Linked DNA regions of Homo sapiens. The protein of the gene in region 1 purifies or fractionates together with the protein of each later gene. This does not show direct contact. Each region holds a gene or a part of one and is shown in the gene's direction. Other genes may lie near its edges.

Region 1 (3,823 bases):
CACTTTGTGGCACTGAAAATTTGTTTCTAACAATTAGCTGTTTGACATCACTGGGTGGATATAAGAGAGTCATTGCACACTTATGACGACTAAAAGAGAACCCCTGATTTCCAGCCTCACTAACACTCTCCAGCATCGTGTGCTTGTGTCCCTGTGTTCTCCATCTCAGTAACACACATTCACCCCTTGGCTAAGACCAGAAACCTTGGATTCTCCCTTAATTCTTCTCTCCCTCATTTTATCAGTGCGTCCTATGAACTCTTCCTTCGATATTATCAGAATCCAGCCACATCTCACTGACCCCACCACCACCACTAGTGGACACTAACTCTTGCTTGGACAGTTGCAATTGCTTATTAAGCAGTCTCCATGGTTTATCTGTTGGCCTCCTACATTCTGTTCTACTCAGCTAAATAAAGAAGAAAAAAGGGAAGAAAGGATACACGCTCCTTTTCTTAAGGGACATTCTTAGAAAGTGCCATACAACGACTGTCCCTCACATGACCTCACCCACCTGCAAGGGAGGCCAGAGAATGCAACCTTTATTGTACATAGCCATGCCCCTAGTTAAAACCATGGTTCCTGTCACTAGGAATAAAGGGGAAGCAGATAGCAACTAAATAGCAATCTCTGCCATAGGAAAATTCTCTGAAATTACTTTACAAGTAATAAGCAATCGAGGCAGAGCAGGAGCATATAAAAAGGCTCCTGAGATGAGGTTCTACAAATGCATGGGTCATTTGAGACACTGAAGAAGTCCCACAGGCCTGACTATTGAAAGCAATGAGACAGTGCCTGCCACAAGCAGAAATGGGGCGAACAGCCAAATCTATCGCTAACTTCACATTTTCCTAAACAGTTTAGCTTATGTTCTTTAATATTGTTGAGTTGTATGTTTTATAGAGTAATACAGTAACTGAAATGTTCAAAAGAAAATTGACCAGGCAATTCTGATAGTATGTTGTTCAGTGTGGAAGCTAGACCTAGGACTCAACCTCGGGGTACAGTTGAAAGATGGTGGAGCTTTGAAATCCTGCCTAGCCAGGCTCGTGCAGAGAAAGTGTAAAGGCATTTATTATAATTCAGCTATGCCAACCTCTTTGAACCTCTGTTTCTTCATCTATAAAACAGAGGTAATAGATAATGAGCAGTGTCTCAGCCTTTTTCAGGGCAATGGAAAGGTCAGCGATGAAAGGAGAAGAAAAAAGATAGCAAGAAAAAAGAAGGAAGACAGGACTCTAAAACTTAAGGAATAGAATGCAGGATAAAGGGGAGGCAAAAGCAACCTTTAGTTCTCCATAAATAATTCCAATGTTTTAGTTTGCTTCTGGCAAACTCATATGAGATGGAAAAGAAAACTTTAGCCACCAGATGTCTCTATCTCTGCACTAAAGCTAATTTTTTGTGTGTAATTTACCTTAAGATTCTCACATTTAAACACTGTAAACACAAATAATTTATTAATATGTTGTAGGTTTTGCTGAAATGTTAAAATTACCGTTGATATTTGATTGTTCAACCACTAAAATAAGTTGTCTTTGGATATTATTATAGAATTATTATCTAATCTGCTTATGAATTTATGATGGGGTTTTCTATACAGTATCCTAAAGACATCTCTTTTTTCCCACCAAATGTGTTATTCTTAGAATTGACTTCTCTTTGAAAGATAACGAAAAGCAGATCATCCTGGACCTTGCTGTCTATAGGTAAAGACATTTTCTACGTATTTATTTATGACATTTCTGTCTGTTTTCATTCTCAGTAGTAATTTTTTAGTTTGAAAAAATTGAAATGGAATTGACTTAGACCTATAGTTAAATGAAGCTTATTTGTTAAGACAGAGAAGTTACTATAATTTTTAAAAGCATGAAAATGAAAGGAAAGGTAAATAAAGCCACAATTTCATGGATATGAACTCAGGAATATCTAAGGCAGAGTTTAAATAATTCTCAGACCTGTGCTGTTTTCTGATGCTGATACTACAAGGACCCCACTCTGTCTTTGCTGGCATAGTCCTCTGTTTTTGTCTAAAATGCCTTCCTATAGTAGTAGGTATCAGGTGATCGGCTCCCCTCCCTCAGTCCCATCTCAGAGGCCTGGGGGAACACCTAGCAGCCCCTGTCACCAGTGGACCCTTCTTCCCTGCTGCCCTCTCACATCCTGCCTGTTTTCTCACCCATGGGTAGGAGTGGCACAGACCTCCTGCCTGCCCTCATCACCACACCCAAACTATTGTCCTTTTCTCCTCCCTAAAGCTCCATGGCTTTGACACTCAAACCTTCAGCCTGTATCCCCTTCTTCTCTTCTTTGTGGAAGCATCTAAAGGCAGCAGGTCACTCTGCCTCATTCCCTGAAGATTTTAGGCCCTGGTTCACTGTGCCGATACATCCTTCTGATGACCTCAGTGTCCCCTGGCACCATCTCAGAGGCTGCTTGCCTGTGCTTCCCTCTGCCTGTATCACCCTCGGTGTCCTTGTGGCTTGCTGCCTCGTGTCCTTCAGGCCTCTGCTCAGATGTCACCTCATTAGAGGGGCCTCTCTGCCCCACCATCTGACATAAAGCAGTACCTACCCCTGCCCAGCACTTCCTTCCACTCTTTCTACTTTTTGACTTCCTGCTGACAAAGTGTAAATTTACTTGTATTCTTAAAAGTTTGTGGTCAGAGCAGGAAGCTTGTTTTGTTTGTTCTTTCCTCTCTACATCTCCACACCTAAAACAATACCTGGCACCTGTTAGGTGCTCAATAAACACAAGAATGAATGAATGAATGAATGAACAAATACTGATGATGGGAGTATGACATTGACATGCATGAATGAATGGATGAATGTTTACATGCATGAATTATAATAAATGCCTTTCTCTTTTTAATGGCTTTTGATGTGCCCCATTTTATTTAATCTCTCAGTAACCCTGGGAGGTTGGAGGGATTATTACCCAAGAGGGGGTAACTTTTCCAAGAGTGAGTCTTGTCAAAGTGAACAGGGACCGAAGGAGCCAGAACATCAGCCCTCAGGACTTCAACCAACTTTGCTGTTTTGATTGTGGTAAAATACACATAACTTAAAATCGACCATTTCAACCATTTCAAAATGGACAACACCATGGCATTTAATAAATTCACAATATTGTACAACCATTACCATTGTCTAGTTCCAGAAAATGTTTATCACCCCAGAAGGAAACCCCATGGTCCTTAAGCAGTCACTGCCCATTCTCTGTCTTCATGGCAACCACTAATCTGTTTTCTGTCTCTATAGATTTGCCTATTTGGGATATTTCATATTAATAGAATCATACAACATGTGGCCTTTGTGTCTGGCTTCTTTCACTTACCATAATGTCTTCAAGCCTCATCCATGTTGTTGCACGTGTCAGAATTTCCTTCCTTTTTATGGCCAAATACTATTCCATTGCATAGATGTACCACATTTTGTTTATCCGTTCACCAGATGGTAGGCATTTGGGTTGTTTCCACCTTGGCTCTTGTGTACCAGGGCTAGCCTTAGTGTGGTCCCTTCCTCTCCACACCAAGCTGTCTCAGATCAGCTGTGTGCCTCTCCACAGAATTCCTGTCAATTCTTCTGCCTGCTTGCTGCCAGGTTATCTGCCTTTACAAAGATCCCAGCTCTTCTCCAGCTAGCTTCATATCCTCTGCTCCTCCAGCTTCCCAAGCTGCCGTTTCTACTGTTTTTCAGACAAATCACTGTTTCATCCTTGTAAGTCCTTTCCATTTTTAGGCCCTATGTCTGGTGTTTAATGAATGTATAACCCTTTCTTTTTCAGCTCTGTTGGCTGCTTCCTGTTCAGTCCTCAAATG
Region 2 (3,823 bases), on another chromosome or scaffold:
AAACGATTCTTCTGCCTCAGCGTCTCGAGTAGTTGTGATTACAGATGCGCACCACCATGCCTGGCTAATTTTTGTATTTTTAGTAGAGACAGTGTTTCACCATGTTGGCCAGGCAGTCTCAAACTCCTGACCTCAAGTGATCCACCCGTCTCGGCCTCCCAAAGTGTTGAGATTACAGGTGTGAGCCACCGGCGCCCAGGTACTCTCATCTTTTGAAAGTTGCTATTTATGGTGGTTTCTGGTTTCCTTCAAACTTGTGTTGTATTTCTGTTGAGGTAATTTAGCATTTATACTATGAAAATCATTGAGAACTTTTAGAAGAAGCAGTTGTTTTGGGAACCAGACAAGCTTTTGTGCAGTTTTTTTTTTCAATGGTGGAAAATAATTTATTTCTCTACCTTGAGTGTAAGGCAAGGGAAAAAAAACTCTTACCAATTGCGTTTTGGAAAACGCAGTTGGTAATATCTCTAGATAATATCTCTGGAGACGTACATAACTTTAATTTTCCTCGAAATTTGCAATATGACAAAATTGAAAAGGGAAATAATACCTCTCACCATTAAATACAAGAATATAATAATCTGAACAATTGAAATTATACTTAAATATGTTATTGACTCTAAAATAATAGAAATGCCTTAATTCCAGACAGTCTTTAAGAAAGCATAATGTGGCTAGGCGTGGTGGCTCATGCCTGTAATCCCAGCACTTTGGGAGGCCAAGATGGGCAGGTTGCTTGAGCCCAGGAGTTTGAGACCAGCCTGGGCAACATGGTGAAACCCTGTCTCTACAAAAAAATACAGAAAGTAGCCAGGTATGGTGGCGTGCATCTTTAGTCCCAGCTACTCAGGAGGCTGAAGAGGGGAGATGGCTTGAGCCCATGAGGCAGAGGTTGCAATGAGCTGAGATCACACTACTGCAAGCCAGCCTGAACAACAGAACGAAATCCTGTCTCAAAACAACAACAACAAAAAACAGAAAGAAAAGAAAGTATGTTTTACATATTTCCATTTTCTCCTTACTCTTCTGAAAAACAAAAATGAAAAGTTTTCATTTTTTTTAACATTTCCTTTAAATGTAAAATTTTATATAACTGTTCTTGGCTTTGGTAGTCTGTTGTCAGAATCAAGTACAGAGATTGTACTGTCAGACGACCTAAAACTGTTTTAAATCTTAAGTGTCCTAAAGAGAGGGCACATATTAGCTTGGAAGCAACTGGTGAAACTTGATATTCAGAGACAAGGCCGTAGAGGTTAAATGAAGTTATATAGTAAAAAACAGCCTTTACGAGTTAATGAAATGTTACAACCAACGTATGCTGAAGTGAAGCAGTATAAAAGAAGGAAAGAACTGGAAGGTCATCCTTTTGTCAGTGTTGTTACCTTTGTCTCTGTTCTTCAGATTGTTTGAGAAAATGAAGTGATTTCCACCAAAGACTTCATACCCAGCTTTCCCCCCTTTTTGTGCCCTTTGGCATTCTCTGCTTCTCTATCCCCCTCATGTCAGCAGAGATGAATTAGGAAATAGGTAGGAGGGAGAGAGAGCAAAAACAGAATTTTTCCATTGTTTTCTAGCTGTTTTGGATGAATTTGAGCAGTAGGCCCTTGGACTTCACAAAGTGCTAGTATTGTTTTGAACATCCCAGCAACCATTGCATTATATTAGTATTTCAAAGTGAAAATAAGAAAGACTACAAGTGTGGGAGGATGGGGGTAAAATCCAACTTAGATGGACCTGCAGAAAAGTTGAAAGATTGATTTTCAAGTATTTTTATTTGTATATATAAGAGAAAGAATGAGCTAAAGACTCTAAAAGAGTAGCTGGTGCATATTAAAAATTATAGATTAGCAAGCCACAAATTTCTGTTCCGAAAAATGTTTTAAAGTAATGTGGCTGAAGTATTAGATTATTAGGAATATTTTGAGTGTTCTAACAAGAGTGCCAAAATTAATTTGGAGAGTAACGACTGTTTCTACTCTTTGGACTCTTGCCAACATTTGTGGGTAAGGTTTAAGGAGAAGGTGCCTATCTTTCCCACCTCACTCAGTAGTAGTTTTCTCATCCTTGTAAAATACTTAGGGAGATTCTGTGTTGTATTGCTTGAACCTCACAGGTTTAAAAGACAGGAAGGTGAATTTTTGCACTCAAAGAAGTTATTTACTAATTTTAGAATAGAGACTGAGGGAATACAATAAGCAGAGATAGAGTGATATGAATGAATAAGGAGTGTATGTGAGAGAGAGTGAGCACAGGTATAGCAAGAGATTATTGTCATCTCCCTATTTTATATAATCAAATAGTTGAAATTCTAAAAATTCAGTTTATTTGGCCAAAGATTAATTTAGTCAGTCACAGGTATTTGTTATGAATCTGTTATGACCTAATATTGTGCTAGGTATCAGGAATTCATTCAGTAGTGAACCAAAGTGCCTACCTTTATGGAGCTTACATTGAGTGGTGGATATCAATAAATAGTAAGCAAATACAAGCTGGGTATGGTGGTGCATGTCGTAGTTCTGGGTACTGGGGAGGCTGAGTTGGGAGGATTGCTTGAGCCCAGGAGTTTGAGGCTAGCTTGGGCAACATACTGAGACCCCTGTCTCTTAAAAAAAAAAAAAAAAAAAGTAAAAGCAAGCAAAACACAATCAATATAATTTCAGTTAGTGATAAATGCCTTTAAAAAACACCAAGATAAACTGTGTGTCGGTTAAGATGCAATCATAAGTCAGAAGCCACAGGTATTTTCAAGAGGGTAAGTTTAATAGAGTTACTGACTATATCAGGGAAATTAAAGAAAATTAAAAGAATACAAGAATAGTTTTAAGAAGCAGCCACTACTGATAGGGCTGAGATAGAGTGCCCAAGTAAGAACCTTTTTTGCCAAGGCTAAGATTCTTACCTTATTGGAAGGAATATGGCCATGACTCAGTAGCAGAGCAGTCACTGGTGTTGCTCTGGTGGAACTTACTGGAAATGCATCCTTCAAAACTTGGTGGGAAATATGCCCTCTAGGTCACGGGTTGGCAAACTGTAGTCCTTTTGCCAGCTGTTTTATAAAAAAAAGTTTAAATAGAACACAGCTATGCCCAATCTATTTACATATTGTCTGTATCTGCTTTCTCACTACAAAGGTAGAGTTATGATGTTATAATCTGCAAGCCTAATTTACTATTTGTCCCTTTAAGAAAAAGTTTATAAATCCCTGTTCTGGAGTACTCTAAAAAACTGTTTATGGGGAGATATCTTGTTAGAGATACTCTGCTTTGAAACCTCCCAAGGGAGAGGAAGCACCAGTGAAAGCTGATGGTCTTTGAGTGTTGCTGACCACCATTAATATCAAGAGCTAGGCACTGGAGAAGCTGCCTCCACTGCAGAAGCTTGCCAAGGATACATGAGTCAGGAACAAGAGCTCCTTTTTCTTGTAATATCTCTCTTTTATCCCCTGCTGACAGAACTTAACATCATGGCACCTAGAAAAAGAAAGATATTTATTTAAGGAACCAAGCTCTATGCTTGTAGAGCAGACAATGAAGAATGAATTTGGAGCAATAAATTGATAACTGGCCCATAAACAGACTAGGATTTGTGAATATTTTAGGTAAGGTGATGAGGAAAGCCTCTCCAAGGAGACGATGTTTGAGGAGAGATCTAAATGATTAGAAAAGATGGGCCAAAGGGGAATGACAAAAGGTAAGGCCTTGAATGTGGCTGTTCAAGGAAGCAGGAAGGCCCATGTGATTAGAATATCTTTAGGGAATTAGGAGAGTGAGAGTAGGGAGGTAGGCAGGAGCAGATGGTATAGGGCCCTAGATCTATAGTAAGA

The links.
Region 2: the proteins of DNAAF11 (region 1) and HSF2 purify together in Homo sapiens (affinity purification with a luminescence readout; one large-scale study listed by IntAct). This does not show direct contact.

The regions. Positions count from the first base shown.
Region 1 is NC_000008.11:132,612,924-132,616,746, reverse strand, and holds part of DNAAF11 (dynein axonemal assembly factor 11), read left to right. Parts: intron 1-1,649; coding exon 1,650-1,709; intron 1,710-3,570; exon of another isoform or gene 3,571-3,722; intron 3,723-3,823. UniProt on the Homo sapiens protein: Involved in dynein arm assembly, is important for expression and transporting outer dynein arm (ODA) proteins from the cytoplasm to the cilia. Acts as a crucial component in the formation and motility of spermatozoal flagella.
Region 2 is NC_000006.12:122,402,652-122,406,474, forward strand, and holds part of HSF2 (heat shock factor protein 2), read left to right. Parts: intron 1-3,823. UniProt on the Homo sapiens protein: DNA-binding protein that specifically binds heat shock promoter elements (HSE) and activates transcription. In higher eukaryotes, HSF is unable to bind to the HSE unless the cells are heat shocked.